3 separate regions of the Homo sapiens genome follow, and regions 1 and 3 are each linked to region 2. Evidence: fine-mapped expression QTL. A gene starts in region 2. Each other region holds a variant in brackets. All regions are shown on one strand. Distances are from middle to middle.

What was found. PIP is the estimated chance that this variant, and not a neighbour inherited with it, causes the effect.
Region 1: its variant is the best candidate, but not a certain one, in a credible set for the expression of SCP2 in whole blood (INTERVAL, PIP 0.73).
Region 3: its variant is the best candidate, but not a certain one, in a credible set for the expression of SCP2 in whole blood (INTERVAL, PIP 0.70).

Annotation. Positions count from the first base shown.
Region 1 is chr1:52,988,303-52,993,302 of GRCh38, reverse strand. All of the region lies in intron 11 of SCP2 (sterol carrier protein 2), which reads right to left. It also overlaps the pseudogene RRAS2P1. Among named protein-coding and RNA genes, the nearest start is that of SCP2, 64 kb to the right of the region's middle. The variant A/G (reference allele first, on the strand shown) is at 3,076.
Region 2 is chr1:52,924,033-52,929,602 of GRCh38, reverse strand. SCP2 (sterol carrier protein 2) reads right to left here and starts at 2,327. Exons shown (of 16, transcript NM_002979.5): 1 at 2,138-2,327. The coding sequence starts at 2,206. It also overlaps the pseudogene LOC100652967. RefSeq lists enhancers at 1,905-1,994, 2,005-2,064, 1,717-2,232 and a silencer at 2,285-2,564.
Region 3 is chr1:52,776,551-52,782,211 of GRCh38, reverse strand. It overlaps ZYG11B (zyg-11 family member B, cell cycle regulator), which reads right to left. Exons shown (of 14, transcript NM_024646.3): 4 at 2,219-2,359. Among named protein-coding and RNA genes, the nearest start is that of ZYG11B, 53 kb to the right of the region's middle. The variant T/C (reference allele first, on the strand shown) is at 3,027.

The DNA of each region.
Region 1 (5,000 bases), 64 kb before region 2:
AACTTGTCCGGGTTATCAGGAAATTTCAAGAGCAGGAATGTCCTCCTTCACCAGAACCAACACGGAAAGAAAAAGACAAGAAAGGCTGCCATTGTGTCATTTTCTAGAATCCCTTCAGTTTTAGCTACCAACTGCCAGGAAAAGCCCTCATCTTCTCTTCCTCTCCTCAGTTTACATCTTGTTGGTACCTTTCTAGCCTTAGACAAATGATCACCATGTTAGCCTTAGACCAAGAAGCTGGCTAGTCCTTTCTGTGAAGCTAATACAATGGTCATTTCCAGACAAACTTAAAGGAAACACTAAGGCTGCTTCAAAGATTATCTGATTCCTTTAAAATATATGTCTATATACACAGACATGCTCTTTTTTTAAGTGCTTACATTTTAATAGAGATGAATCAGTTTTGGAATCTAAGCTGTTTGCCAAGCTGAAGCTACAGGTTGTGAAATAATTTTTAACTTTTGGAATCACACTGCCTACTGTTACTCTAAATAGAAATATAGGGTTTTTTTAATGTGAATTTTTGCCTATCTTTAAACATTTCAATGTCAGCCTTTGTTAACCTTAAATACACTGAATTGAATCTACAAAAGTGAACCATCTCAGACCTTTACTTATACTACAACTTTTGTTTTCTGGTGGCCAAAATACCAAATGCCTATTGTATTTATGGATTAAAAACTGCTCATAAAAGCCTGTGTTACTGCTCCTACTCTTGAAGATGGTAATATTCTACGTGGTCAAATATTTGGACTCATTTAGGACTTAGATATTTGAGTGTACTTGGTTTTTTAATTTAACTCTTTTTCACAGCCACGCTAAGGGTAAAAAGGAATAATTTCTGTCTGTCTTCCTTTTCAAGTATTTCTGGGTAAGGGATTCAAAAAACTAAAACTGTTTTTGTTTGTAATATAAAATATGGAATTGATCTTTCTGGGGTCAGAGATGATTAATGTTTTTGCTATATACTTTTATACATTATTTTCTTATCAAACTAGTTAACAAATATTTTTATATGTTTGTAAGCAGATACGCTTTCATAGCATACCTTGTGTATATGTAAAGATAAGTATTTAATTCTCACTGTTCACTTTTAACTGACAAAGAAAAACAAGTGGAAACTACAGAAACTGTGGTAGAACTTTTACTTGCTGGTCTGGTCTTGGTTGTACCCATCTTTGGCCAGTCACACATCTACTCAAGAAACCTTCCCAACAGAGTACAACAGGATGAGACTCTGAAATCACTTTCAGTATTCCCTGCTAGATATTGATTGTTATTTCAAGTATTAAGTGTAAGCTTTTAATGGATAATTAGTATAACTGTGGATGGCATCTGATTTTGTTTTTAATTCTGTGGATTGTATTTAAGCAATTCAATAGTATGTTCCTGATTTTGAGATGCTAAGTGGTATTGCACGGTTGTCACTTTATCAAGTGTGTACAACAGTCCCATGAAGTTTATAGAGCATACCCTTGTATAGCTTCAGGTACTAGAATTAAAATTGATCTGTTATCACAAAAAAAAAAACCAAATTAAAGAACATTCTTTTCCAAAAATGGTTAAAAATTATTTTTCATACTGTGATAAAAACAAGAGGTTTGGGCTGGGCGTGGTGGTTCATGCCTGTAATCCCAGCACTTTGGGAGGCCGAGGCAGGCAGATCACAAGGTCAGGAGTTCAAGACCAGCCTGACCAACCTGGTGAAACCCTGTCTCCACTAAAAATACAAAAATTAGCTGGGCGTGGTGGCACATGCCCATAATCCCGGCTACTTGGGAGGCTGAGGCAGAAGAATCGCTTGAACCTGGGAGGCGGAGGTTGCAGTGAGCCAAGATCGCGCTACTGCGCTCCAGCCTGGGCGACAAAGCAAGACTCCGTTTCAAGGAAAAAAAAAAGAAAAAAGAAAAAAAAAACAAGAGGTTTATTACTGGCAAACAAACAAACAAGAACCAGTTAAGCAGATCCATCATGGCTCCCTTTTGTAGTTGGGAAGGGAATTCTGGAAGTTATTGTGTTCCTACTCTTTTTGGGGGACTCTACTATATACTTTACATACATATATTTCCTCACTTAATCCACAGAACAGCCTTATAAGGTAGGTACTATATTCCCATTTTATAGATAAGAAACTAGGATTAACTGGCTAAGCTACATACTAAAGAGAGTGAAGAGGCTAGGTTCAAACCCAAGACTTCATTCATACAGAACACGTACCTATAATTCAGGTACATCCCTTACATATATATCACTTTCCATTCATAGCCACTATTTCTAAAAGTGTACCTGCACTATTATTGCCACTTTCTCACTTATAATTCTTTCTGAATCTCATCTGCTTCCATGCAAAACACTTCTTCAAAATTGCTCCAAGATTGCCAACGACTTTGTAACAGCCAAATCTGAAGGACACTTTTCATTCTTTATCTATCTAACTTTTGTGGCCTAATCTCTTACTTTTGAAACACTCTCCTTCCTTGGCTAACTGAGCATTCCCTCTCATTATTCTTAAATGGTTCTTCTTCTCCACCTATACCTTTAATTTTTTTTTTTTTTTTTTTTTTTTTTTGAGACGGAGTCTCACTCTGTCGTCCAGGCTGGAGTGCAGTGGCATGATCTCGGCTCACTGCAGGCTCCGCCTCCCGGGTTCACGCCATTCTCCTGCCTCAGCCTCCCAAGTAGCTGGGACTGCAGGCGCCCGCCACCACGCCTGGCTAACTTTTTGTATTTTTAGTAGAGACGGTGTTTCACTGCGTTAGCCAGGATGGTCTTGATCTCCTGACCCACCGTGCCTGGTTGTCTTTTTTATAATTTCTATTTATTAATATTCTCTACCTGGAGAAACATTGTTCTCATACTTTCCTTTAGTTCTTTATATATGGTTTCCTTTAATATATTTAAAATAGCTAGTTAAAGTCTTTGTCTAGTAAGTCCAATGTTTTGGCTTCCTCAGGGATAGTCTCTATTGACTGCTTTTTTTCCTAGGTACATAGGTCACCCTTTATTGTTTATCTGCATGTCTTTCTTTTTTTTTGTTGAAAACTGGACATTTTAAATAATGTAGCTTCTCTAAAA[A/G]TCAAATCCTCCTCTTTCCCAGTTTGTTGTTGTTGTTGTTGCTGTTTATTGTTGTGGTTGTTTATTTAGTGACTTTTCCAAGCTAATTCTATAAAGTCTGTAATCTTTGTCCCACATGGCCACTGAATTTTCTCTTCCCTCAGCTACTGACTGGACAGAGATGTCCTTAAATGACTGAACTAAAAAGTCTCCTGGTCTTTACTGGACCTCTACCTGCATAATGTGGTACTCAGCCAGGCAGTTTACAATTCTACCTTAGCCTTTGCCTTTTGCTTGTGCAGAGCCCCAAGTTTAGCCAGAGGTGAGCTTAGGACCTTCTCAGGTCTTTCCTGAGCATGCACACAACTCTGACCTTATATACGCCATTAGGCTTCTAGATTCTCAGGAACATATCAGATCTTTTCAAAGCCCCCTATGGACATCCTACTCCCCAACTTTTCCTTTTTTTTGGTTATTTTGTTGTTTACCCCAATTGGCACCTGAGGTAGCTACTTTGTTGAACAGTTGTGGCTGATTTTTCTCGACAATTGCCTCTAGGGAAAATACTCTTTGCACTGGGTGAGTTTTCAGTGAGGTGAAATAAAGACAAAGCTTTCAAGTGGGGTTTACCAGGACACTGTCAGACAGGTCATATAATGACAGTTCTCTAAGGAAGGGGCTTTGAAAGAGCTCCAACTCTGTTCTGACTTGCTCAGTGCCAGCTAGGCTGCTAATTTTCACCATGACTGCAAGCTGTAGGTTTTCAAGGCTACAGTGGAGCTGCAGAAAGAGGGAGGTGTTAAGGCAGGTGAAAATGCCACAAAGCTCGTTGCTCTCACAGAGATTATGTTCTTTGTTGTTGTTTTAAGCACCCCCCACCTCCACTCCCAACAGATTGTTGTAAATCTGGTTAATTTTTAAAGTTATGGAAAAAGTTGATCTTGACAATTTTTGCCAGAGTTCTCCGAACTTTTATAAAGGACAGGATTTTTGGATGTTGTTATTTTGCCACTTCCCATAACATCACTGATCATCCCCATAATTCTTAGATTTCTTTGAAAGATATTAGATTGTTTAAAGCAACAATAATAATAGTATATTGTGAGGGTTATAATATACTTAGGAATAAGTGTATGGAAACAATAACACAAAAGATAGGAGAAGGTAAATAGATAGGCAGCTGTAAAAATCTTACGTTATATACAAAATGGCATAACACTATTTGAAGGTAGACTGTGATATATTAAAAATGCATGTTGTGGCCGTGTGTGGCCCATGCCGGTAATCCCAGCACTCTGGGAGGCTGAGGCAGGTGGATCACTTGAGGTCAGGAGTTCAAGACCAGCCTGGCCAACATGGTGAAACTCCATCTCTACTAAAAAAAAAAATACAAAAATTAGCTGGGCATGGTGGCACAAGCCTGTAGTCCCAGCTACTCAGGAGGCTAAGGCAGGAGAATGGCTTGAACCCGGGAGGCAGGGGCTGCAATGAGCCGAAATTGTGCCACTTCTTTCCAGCCTGGGCAACAGAGCGAGACTCCATCTCAAAAAAAAAAAAAAAGAAAAGAAAGAAAGAAAAAAGGAATTGCATGGTGAGGTTTGGGCTTAATTTTTTATTTAAAAAAACAGAAACCACATTGTACAAGTTTGTCATTTTATAATTAAGGAATTAAAAGTTAAAGTGATTGACTGATAAAAATAGTTTCACACGGCCAGCCAGTCAACAGCAGAGCCATAGTAAAATTCTTACTTTATAAATTCTAGTCCAGTTGTCTCAAGAGAAAATAATTTCCATGCAATGTCAACCATGTATACAACTACATATAAATAACATGCTCATTTCAAATGATTCTTATTTAGCAGGTCTAGTAAGATCTCTATTTGGAAACATCCTGAATTTAGTTTTAATTAATTCAAATTCTCATCAATTAATGAAGATTATTTAAG
Region 2 (5,570 bases):
CATGGTGGCACACACCTGTAATCCCACCTACTTGGGAGGCTGAGCAGAAGAATCACTTGAACCTGGGAGGCAGAGGTTGCAGTGAGCTGAGATCGCCCCACTGCACTCCAGACTGGGGGACAGAGTGAGACTCTGTCTCAAAAAATAAAAATAAAGTATTATGATAAATTATAACAGTAATATATGGTAGAAATGAGACCCATCTAGTAGTAAGTAGTGAGACCCTGTCTCTACAAAAAAAATTTTTTTTTAATTAGCCAGGTATGGTAGAATGCCTGTAGTCCTAGCTACTCGGTAGGATCGCTAGAGTCCAGGAGTTCAAGGCTGCAGTGAGCTATGATTGCACCACTGCCTTCCCATCTGGTTGACAGAGCAAAACTCCGTCTTCCAAAAAAAAAAAAAAAAGTGTTACAGTGTTGTCTAGTCAATATTTCTCCCTCCTCCATCAAACTCTGTCCCAAGGTGCAGAAGACCAGACCTATAGCAAAGTACACTGGCCAGATAGGCACATCATTAATGGCACTACCCAAACTCCTCACCACTTTCCTCTGGACTGTAACACCTCCCCGACCTCTACCTCCCAACTTGAGGAAAAAGGAATACATCTATTTCCCAAAGGTTTAGACAACTGTGCTTTTCCATACAGCACATATAATCAGGCATTCAGCAGCCAGAGGAAGGTTTGACTGCATTAATACCTTACTTCGAAAGATCCTACTGTCCACCTGTGTTAGAAGCCTCCCCTTCTGTGAAACACTAGGATGATGTCCTTCCGCTTCATAAGGTATTGGTCCACTTTTCCATTTCCATGGATATTTTTTGTTTTTGTTGAGACAAGGACTGACTCTATGGCCCAGGCTGGGGGTGCAGTTGCGTGATCTCAGCTCACTGCAACCTCCATCTCCCAGGCTCAAGCAATCCTCCCACCTCAGCCTCCCGAGTAGCTGGCGTGTGCTACCATGCCCGACTAATTTTCGTATTTTTAGTAGAGACGGGGTTTCACCATGTTGGCCAGGCTGGTCTCGAACTCTTGACCTCAGGTGATCCACCCGCCTTGGCCTCCCAAAGTGCTGGGATTACAGGCGTGAGCCACCGGCCCCGGCCTATTTACATGTTGGACTGAATTAGGTACGCTCAGCCCACTGGTAAAATAATAAACATTTTAGGGCTGTTTTCTCAGAAATAGAACTCTCCCTAGGAACTCTTTCACAAAGCATATCCATTTAGTATTGTTCAACTAACATTCACTGAGGGTCTTCAAGCATCAGGAACGTTCAGGGCGAGGGGCACAGCAGTGAATAAGCCAGGTACCCAGTCTAGAGGAGCTGCCATGCTAAGAGGGCGCGCAGACGCCTATGAGCTTTAGTACTGCCCGGTACTGCCGAGCACAGTAAGTGCAGGACAGAGGTAAGCACAGTGCAAGGCTCTAGGGGAAAGTCAGGAGGATCCGAGGCGTCCTGGAGAAGATCCGATCTGAACGGATCCTTTCAGGATGCACAAAAGTTAACAGGTGAAGATACACGGTACAAACAGAACAGAAGCAAAGCAACAGAGGCATCAGACAACTGCGTCCGGGGAGAAACGAAAGGCAGTTTGGCATTAAGGAGCATGCGGGCGATGAGGGGAAAACGGCCGTGGGAGCCTGCGGCGTCCGGGTCCCAAGCAGTCACTGGAGGGACAGAGGGAGGCCGGAATCTGCCACTCGGGCCGAGGCGCTGGGCATCAGGAGCGTTTCTCCTCGCCATCCACATCTGGAGCTGTCTCTGTGAGGGCTCCTGTGGGGGCTGTTCCTGGGAGGGCCGAGCAGGCGGCATTCGCGACCTGCCTCCCTCCGGGGCAAGCCAGCCCACACACCTCGGGACTCCGCTCAGAATCTAAAGAGGTGAGATCCTTGGATTATCTCGGGGCTGCTTCATGAACTCTGACCAGAAGAAAAGGGAAGGAGGAAGCAGAAGGCCGCAGGAACCAGCCCGAGACGCTATGACCCCAGAGATTCCGCAGAGTACAAGCCACCAAGTCGCCACGCCGATGACCCACGCGCGGAGCAGTCGAAGCTAGGAGACCGGAGGGACAGAGAAACCCAGGCACCGACCGCCCCCGAGCCTCAGAGGGCCAGCAGGGCCGCTGCTCGGTTTACCTTGGTCATGCCAACCCCCACCACGAACACCCGGCGCAGGGTCGCAGGCTCCCACGGGGAAGAGGACATGGCTGCACCAGTGCGGGACCGGGGCGGGCGCCGCGGACGACTGCCGGCACTGACAGGCGGAGACTGCACCAGAGCTCCCTGAAGCCCGAAGCCAGGGCCGCGGGCGGCAACACAGGCGCGTGAGAGTGCGCGTGCGTAGGGGCAGGAGGAGGGGGCGGGGTGGGGCGCGTCCTGTGGGGCGGGGAGCGTTCTCTAGCCCTTAGGCAGCCGAATCCCTAATTTGCGGACTTGGGCATGGGACTGAGTCAACCTGTCCCCATCTCTGATCCTGTGCTTAGGTTCTGTACGGTGAGCGGGAGTAGGCTTGCAGTGGGGCCTAAGACTGAGAGGAGGGGTTGGCCGGAAAGCGGACTCATGAAAGGTGACCCTGAGGAGAGCCGTTGGGGTTCGTGTTGGAATTGGCCTGTGTCCTGTTAGCGGTGGCAGTTGAGAGTGAATTCATGAATTTAAACTCACAGGACACCAAGAAAGCGGGGATGGGCAGGATCTCACACATGGATACAATGTCTAAATCAAAAAACCCAGGCTCCGTCACCAGCTGCGTGACCTTTTTAATCTTGTGAACAAAAGTTCTCCGAAAAGGAATTTGGAAGACAGAGACTTTATTCCAGCAAACCGGGGAGAAACAGCCTTCCATGTTTATTGGAGACCGGAGTCTCGCTCTGTCGCCCAGGCTGGAGTGCAATGCCGCGAACTCGGCTCACTGCAGCCTCCGCCTCCCAGGTTCAAGCAATCCTCCTGCCTCAGCCTCCCGAGTATCTGGGATTACAGGCGCGCGCCACCACGCCCCGCTAATTTTTGTATTTTTAGTAGAGATGGGGTTTCGCCATGTTGGCCAGGCTGGTCTGGAACTCCTGACCTTAGGTGATCTACCCACCTTGGCCTCCCAAAGTGCTGGGATTACAGGCGTGAGCCACCGCGCCCGGCTCCCCGGTTTATTTTATCTTATGTAAAAATGCAGATTCATTGAGCTAGATGAATGCATAAGTGACTATTTCTCTACCCCCCTCACATGTGAAGGTTGATCAAAGACTCAGAAGAATGCAACCGTTTGCCTCTTATCTACCCACATCTTTTTAAAATTTATTCATCTTTCCCCAATATCTGCCCCTTCCCCTATAAAAACTGAAGCCCTCAAAATCATCTTTGGAGAAAGGCACGGACCTGTCTCCAAAGATGATGCACGTCCTTAAACTTGGCAAAATTAACTTCTAAATTAATTGAGATCCGTTTCATATACTTTTCGGTTTGCAGTATCAGCATTTAGAAAGGCTCTCCTAGAAGATTCTAAGGATTGCTTCTTGGCCATTTGGCTAAGATCAAGTTTAGGAGATTCTAAGAAGCCCCCTCTGTGCTAAGTAAAGAACTACTGAGCTAGGACTAGACCAACTTAGTAAAATTGCTGCGCTCAGTGATGCACGCCTCCCATCTGCTCAGGAGGCTTCGGCAGAAAGATCACTTGAGCCTGGGAATTCAAGGCTACAAATGTGCTATGATTACACCTCTGAATAGCCACTGCACTCCAGCCTGGGCAACATACCAAGACCACGTCTCTAAAAAACCAAAACGAAACAAAAAAAAAAAAAAAAGAAAAACAAACACAAATCAGGGCACTGACATGTACAGTTGTTTCTTGAAACTGATGGACTGACAAGACAGCAATATGATTGGTGGATCAGACAAAGTTACCAACCTAATAGAACAACAAGTCCTAAGGTCAAGATTAATTGTTATGTAACAAATCCTGGCTGTCCACTGGATATTGCTTTCAAAATAAGAGTCCATAGAGGGCAGAGGGGATAGATAGTAATATAAAAGGTATTTGTTAATACCGAAAAGACTGAGAAAAAACACTTCCCTTTCCAATGTGAAGGACTAAATAATCCAAACTTTTCCCACTATAAAACACAGACTTTTCTAAGTCATTGGATGTGGGGCTCTGGGGTAGCCTGAGCTGTTTGTCCCACACCAAGATGCTTCAAAACATTATTAAAAATGTTTGGATCCCCATGAAGCCCTATTATAACCAAGTTTATCAGGAGATTTGAGTAGGAATGGGGTTAATGAGCCTCATCATTTATAAAATCAGGAGTACTGATAAAATAAGTAAAATATTGAAAGCTTCTCCACCTGCTTATGGTCATCACTAACCAGCTTCACTTAGCATGCACATGAAATGAAACATTAGTCGACCTGTGAATTTAAGCAAGCTATGTTAGAAAGGAACCTGGAAAATCACTGTACACTTATATAAGTACCACTTACTTTGTGGCATGAATAAGTATACCAAAAAAAAACACCCAGAAATGCCAGATAAAATACAATAAATATCATTTTAAGCTGGGTGTGGTGGTACGAGACTGTAATCCCATCTACTTGAGGAGCTGAGGCAGAAAGGCTGCTTGAGTCCAGGAGTTCAAGGCTGCAGTGAGCTACGATTATGCCTGTGAATAGCCACTGCACTCCAGCCTGGACAGCATAGTGAGACCTTTTCTGTTAATACAAAAAGACAAAAAGCAGCGAGGCACAGTGGCTCATGCCTGTAATCCCAGCACTTTGGGAGGCCAAAATGGGAGGATTGATTGAGCCCAAGAATTCAAGACCAACCTGGGCAACATAGCTCCCTATCTCTAAAAAAAAAGAAGAAAAAACAAGAAAAATCTTTTTAAATGGGTGGATGCCAGGCATGGGGGCTCACACCTGTAATCCCAGCACTTTGGGAGGCTGAGGTGGGAGGATCACTTGAGGCCAGGTGTTTGAGACCAGCCTGGCAACATAGGGAGACCTCTGTCTCTACAAAAAATTTAACAATGAGCCAAGTGTGGTGGCCCACTCCTGTAGTCCCAGCTACTCGGAAGGCTGAGACGGGAGGATCCCCTGAGCCCAGGAGTCTGAGGTTGTAGTGAACTGACTGCACCACTGTACTCCAATGTGGGCAACAGAGTGAGACCCTGTCTCAATAAAATAGAATACAATAAATGCATGGAATATGGAGGAGGGAAGGTTTTTCTTTTAATCTTATACCCAATTATAGTTTGTATGTTTTGTTTTTGCTTCTTTTTTTTTTTTAAGACAGAATCTCACTCTGTTGCCCAGGTTGGAGTGCAGTGGTGTGATCTCAGCTCACTACAACCTCCACCTCCTGGGTTCAAGCGATTCTTGCACCTCAGCCTCCTGAGTAGCTGGGATTACAGCTGCCCACAACCACGCCTGGCTAATTTTTGTATTTTTAGTAGAGACAGGGTTTCACCATGTTGGCCAGGCTGGTCTTGAACTCCTGACCTCAGGTGACCCACCCACCTCAGCCTCCTAAAGTGCTGGGATTACAGGCATGAGCCACCGGGCCTGGCTAGTTTGTATGTTT
Region 3 (5,661 bases), 150 kb after region 2:
TGTAGTTCCAGCCACTCTGGAGGCTGAGGAAGGGGGATCATTTGAGCCCAGGAGGGAGGTCGAGGCTGCAGTGAGCCATGATCATGCCACTGCACTCCAGCATGGGTGACAGAGTGAGATGCTACCTCAATAAATAAACAAATAAATAAATAAATAAATAGCCTATATTCTTCCATTTATCTCTGAATCATTCTCTGAATGTCTGAATGAATATTTCAGATCAAGACTAGAGATCTAGTCTTCTGTTGCTCAGTTCACAGTAATCAAAACAAAAAAAAAAAGACAATTCATATACCAAGTGCCAACATCCTCTGATATATATAAAAGGAGTGACAGGTGTTGGTGATAATATCCTAAGGACTAAAATGTTACTGGTTCCTACCCAAGCGCCTCATTCTCAGAATTTAAGATATGTAGGATATCAAGTTGTGGCTCTGCCACTGACTTATTATTACTTAACGTCACAGAACCTCAATTTCATTATCTGTAAAACAGAAGATAAAACCCATCTCTTGGAATTGTGCCCACTAAATGAGGTGCCAAATATAATAGAGTCCTAAGCTCATTGGTTTTCAAAATTGAACGTGCGTAAGAATTACCTTGGAATTATCTTGGGGGCTTATTAAAACGTAGATTCCTGTGCCTCATCTAGCCCTACTGAATCTAAATTTTTGGGAGTGGGGTTTACAAATATCTTTTTTTTTTCTCTTTTAAGACAAGTTTTCACTCCTGTCACCCAGGTTGGAGTGTGGTAGCATGATCTCAGCTCGCTGTAACCTCTGCCTCCCTGGCTTGAGCAATTCTCCCGCCTCAGTGTCCCATGTAGCTGGGACTACAGGTGCGTGCCACCACAGCTGGCTAATTTTTGTAATTTTTGTAGAGATGGGGTTTTGCCATGTTGCCCAGGCTGGTCTTGAACTCCTGAGCTCAAGTGATCTGCCTGCCTTGGCTTCCCAAAGTACTGGGATTACAGGTGTGAGCCACCATGCCTGGCCACAAATAAGCTTTTTAAATAAGCAACATCCTAGACTTCTAGTGGTTAAAGGACAACTTTGGTTGTTGTTGTTGTTGTTGTTTTGAGAGAGTCTTGCTCTGTTGCTCATGCTGGAGTGCAGTGGCACGATCTCGGCTCACTGTAAACTCGGCCTCCCAGGTTCCTCATGCCTCAGCCTCCTGAGTAGCTGGGATTACTGGCGTGCACCACCACATTTGGCTAATTTTTTGTATTTTTAGTAGAGATGGGGTTTCGCCATGTTGGCCAGGCTGGTCTAGAACTCCTGGCCCCAAGTGACCCACCTGCCTCAGCCTCCCAAAGTTATTACAGGTGTGAGCCACTGCGTCCTGGCCCAAAGGACCACATTTTGATAAATGTTGCCCAAAGCATTCAATAAAATTAAGAAATCTCCTTTCTTGCCCTTCAAAAGCTGTTTTGGTTAAAATAGCTAGGTGCTGTGATGTACACACCTGTAGTCCTAGCTACTTGGGAGGTTAAGACAGGATTGCTTGAGCCCAGGAGTTTGAGGCCTGTGAACAGCCACTGCACTCTTGCCTGGGGAACACAGTAAGACCCTATGTCTTAAAAACAAAACAAAACTTAATTGCGGAGTAATGTAAATCAGTTAAGAATGCATAGTAGGTTCTAAACAGCATGGAAAAGTACCTTATAGAATTTCAATATTTGCTTTGTCTTTACTTCTCTCTTTTTTTTATTTTTTTAATACTTTTTGTAGGAATGGGGTTTTGCCATCTTGCTCAGGCTGGTCTCGAACTCCTGGGCTCAAGCTACCCATCTGTCTCAGCTCCTGAAGTGCTAGGATTACAGGCATGAACTACCATATTTGGTGCAATATTGTATTTCTAAAAAATCTATTTGGGAAGCAATATAGGGTTAATATACAATACAGTGTCCTGATTCCAGTCATATACTTTCATTTTCTACAGTAGCTGGTGATAAAATATCATGGTAGTCACTGGTTTTAGGTAGATAAATATGTACTACAAGACATTTATATTGCTTAATGAGATTATTGTGAAGCTTCAATAACATTGTACAACTATCTTCTCTCTCGTTTATAGCTAATGATTGAAATCACACGTCATCAATCACATTATAAATAATAAAAAAAGACTAAATGCAAATTTTCACCAATTTTCTTCAAAAAATCATCTGCCCAGGGAGATCATTTCAAAAATTTCATATCCAGTTTCTTATTCTTACCTTTAAAATTTCTGGCTTTGTTTTTTCCATCACATGAGTCAGACTAAAAAGATGAAATAGAGCTTCCCGAACAAAGAATGCCCGTTCACTGTAACGCTTCAGTGCTTCTGCAATCTGAGTTTCATTGGCTTCCCCAGACACCTGTGAACATAACCAGATTAGCTTTTAGAATTCTCTCTCTTTCTCTATCTAATTATCATGTGTGGCCAGGCGCGGTGGCTCACGCCTGTAATCCCAGTACTTTGGGAGGCCAAGGTGGGTGGATCATGTGAAGTCAGGAGTTCGAGACCACCCTGGCCAACATGGTGAAACTCCATCTCTACTAAAAATAAAAAATTAGCCAAGCACGGTGGTGCATGCCTGTAACTGCAGCTACTCAGGAGGCTGAGGCAGGAGAATCGCTTGAACCCAGGAGGCGGAGGTTACAGTGAGCTGAGATCACGCCACTGCACTCCAGCCTGGGCAACACAGCAAGACTCTGTCTCTAAATAAATAAATAAATATCATTTGTATACATGGTATCTTGGATAGTTATGTAAAGCTGGGATCAAATAAAAATGACTATACTTTCCAATCTATCCAGATTAGTCATCTTAAACAGCTATATCTGTCTTGAAGAGATGTATATTAGATAGGCTCAGAACCTAGCATAAGACCATGGGCGAAATTTTCTGTATTATACCTAAAATAGATCTCAAGATATTTAACACTATTATAAGGCCCTACCGCTTGATTAGGATCCTATCTGCCTCTTAATCCCCTCCCTCTAGCTCACAATGTTATAACTGTATGACCTTTTTTCCTCACC[T/C]TTCCGTAAGTCAAGCTTTTTCTCAGCAAAGGACCACTCATACAATGTCCTCTCTGACTGAAAACTTCCTTTCTCTCTTTACCTGACTAATTTCTACTCATTCTTCCTTATTCAAGTTAAGGACACTTTCTTAGAGAAGTCTTTGTTGAGCCACTGATTTAAGTTAGGTCCCCTGAAACATCTCTTTCAGAGCTATTATCATAATCCCCCACTACATTGATCCATTCACCATTGTACCACAATAGCTAGCGTTATGCTTGGCTCAGAATACTTTCTCCATAAGTATTCATCAAATAAATGTATCAATTAATTTCCCCAGATTTATCACGCTCCTTTTCAGCACCAAGAGGTTCTGTTTAAAATTAAGTCTTTCTAGGGATTCCCAACATAAAAGTATATTATTTTAAGATAATACGCTTATCTTAAAATGTAGTTCAGGTGCCATTCGGCAACCAAACGTAGGTAGCAGAAAGTGGCTCTTTATAAAAGTAATCCAACTAGTAAGTGAAAAATAAATGATTAAAATATCACCATAATCCCCAATGAATTGATAGATCTAGCTACTAAGTGTCAATAACTGCTAACATCACAGAAAGAGAAACAACTAGATATTTATGTACCTCATAACGTAAGAATACAACACCTAAGGGTCTGGCCAAAGGGATCTAACGTAAGTCTAATTAAGCCTCCAAATCCAGCTACCAATTTGCAGAAAATACAAAGAGAAAGATGCACCATTAGTATACAATCAGCAAAATCCAGGCTGGCAGAGTGGCTTATATCTGTAATCCCAGCACTTTCGGAGGCTGAGGCAGGAGCATCACTTTAACCCCAGGAGTTCCAGACCAGCCTGGGCAACACAGCAAGACCCTGTCTCTACAAAACATCAACAAATACAATAAAATCCAGACTGAGGGAAACTCTACAAATCCAAACGATAGATTATTCAATAAACAAATTATAAGGAAAAGAAAGGGATGAGGAGAAACCTATAAACTAAAAGATACTCAAAAGACATCAAATTGTTTTAAACAGACAAGATTATACAGGTGCCTAAATAGTTGGGTCATAAAATTATAAAGAAATGAAAGGACATGGTTGGGTGTAGTGGCTCGCGCCTGTAATCCCACCACTTTGGGAGGCTGAAGCGAGCTTTGGGGTAGATGACAAAGTTCTGTTACTTAACCTGAGTGATGGTCTCAAGTGTGTTCACTTTATTTTCAACTCATTAAGCTATATAATTATTTACTGCCTTTGTCTCTGTTTTATTTTACAATAAAGTTTTAAAAAATGCCAAAAAACGTCATTCAGAGCGACTATCTCATAATAAGGGGAAGATTTAGTCTTTTTTGGCAGTAACATTATACAGTGTGACACAAAAGTAATCAAATATTTTAAAAATATATTACTCAGTAACTAAGTTGTATATAAACATATAATATTCAGCCAGGCATGATGGCTCATGCCTGTAATCCCAGCACTTTGGGAGGTAGAAGCAGGAGGATCACTTGAGCCCAGGAGTTCAAAACCAGCCTGGGGAACATAGTAAGACCCTGTCTCTATAAAAGAAAAGAAAAATTAGTTACGTGTGATGGTGCATGCCTGTAGTCCCAGCTACTTGGGAGACTGAAGAGGACTGCTTGAGCCCACGAATTTGAGGCTGCAGTAAGCCATGACTGTGCCACAGCACTCCATGATGCGCAACAGAGTGAGACTCTATCAAAAAAAACAAAAAAGCCTATAAACGTTCAGATTGGAATATGCAGCTTTGAGGAAATGAAGGGATGTATCATGGTTGACATTTCAACCATTAATAGGATATGCTACAAGAGTCTGAAATGAATTAGACTACAGTATTGATATATGTCACATGACACAAGGGTACATATGAAGAATTTCTAAGATTGTTGAAATAATAATAAAAGTTTCTTTACTTCCATTACTTTACGTCTTTTCTCTTTTTTTTCCTTTTTTTTGAGATACGGTCTTGCTCTGTCGCCCAGACTGGAGTGCAGTGGCACGATCTCGGCTCACTGCAACCTCTACTTCCCGGGTTCAAGCAATTGTCATGCCTCAGCCTCCTGAGTAGCTGGGATTACAGGCGCCCGCCACCACGCCCGGCTAATTTTTGTATTTTTAGTAGAGACGGGATTTCGTCATGTTGGCCAGGCTGGTCTCGAACTCCTGACCTCAAATGATCAGCCAACCTCGGCCTCCTAAAGTGCTGGGATTACAGGCATGAGCCACCACTTCCAGCCTCCATTACTTTACTTCTTTAAACCCTTTTTAAACTTTCTATTTATGTATAACATACATACACAAACTGGTTTGGACTACATATTCACATATACAAATGGGTATTTAATAAAATTTTTCAAAGTGTTCAGTTCATTGAATCACCCAGAACTTTTTCTTATAAATTCAGAAAAAAACAAAAAATGCTGAAATGTGAAATGAAAAAAACTCTAAGAGGGAAATATAAAATAATCTAAATCAGACTTTATTCTTCCTTTACCCACATTTGGTTGGTTCCAACAGCTTTATAAATCTCTTATACGAAATATATCCTCAAGTTACCTTGAATATAAAATTAAAGAACTCTTGTTACTGGAATGTTAAAGACTCTAAGCCAATT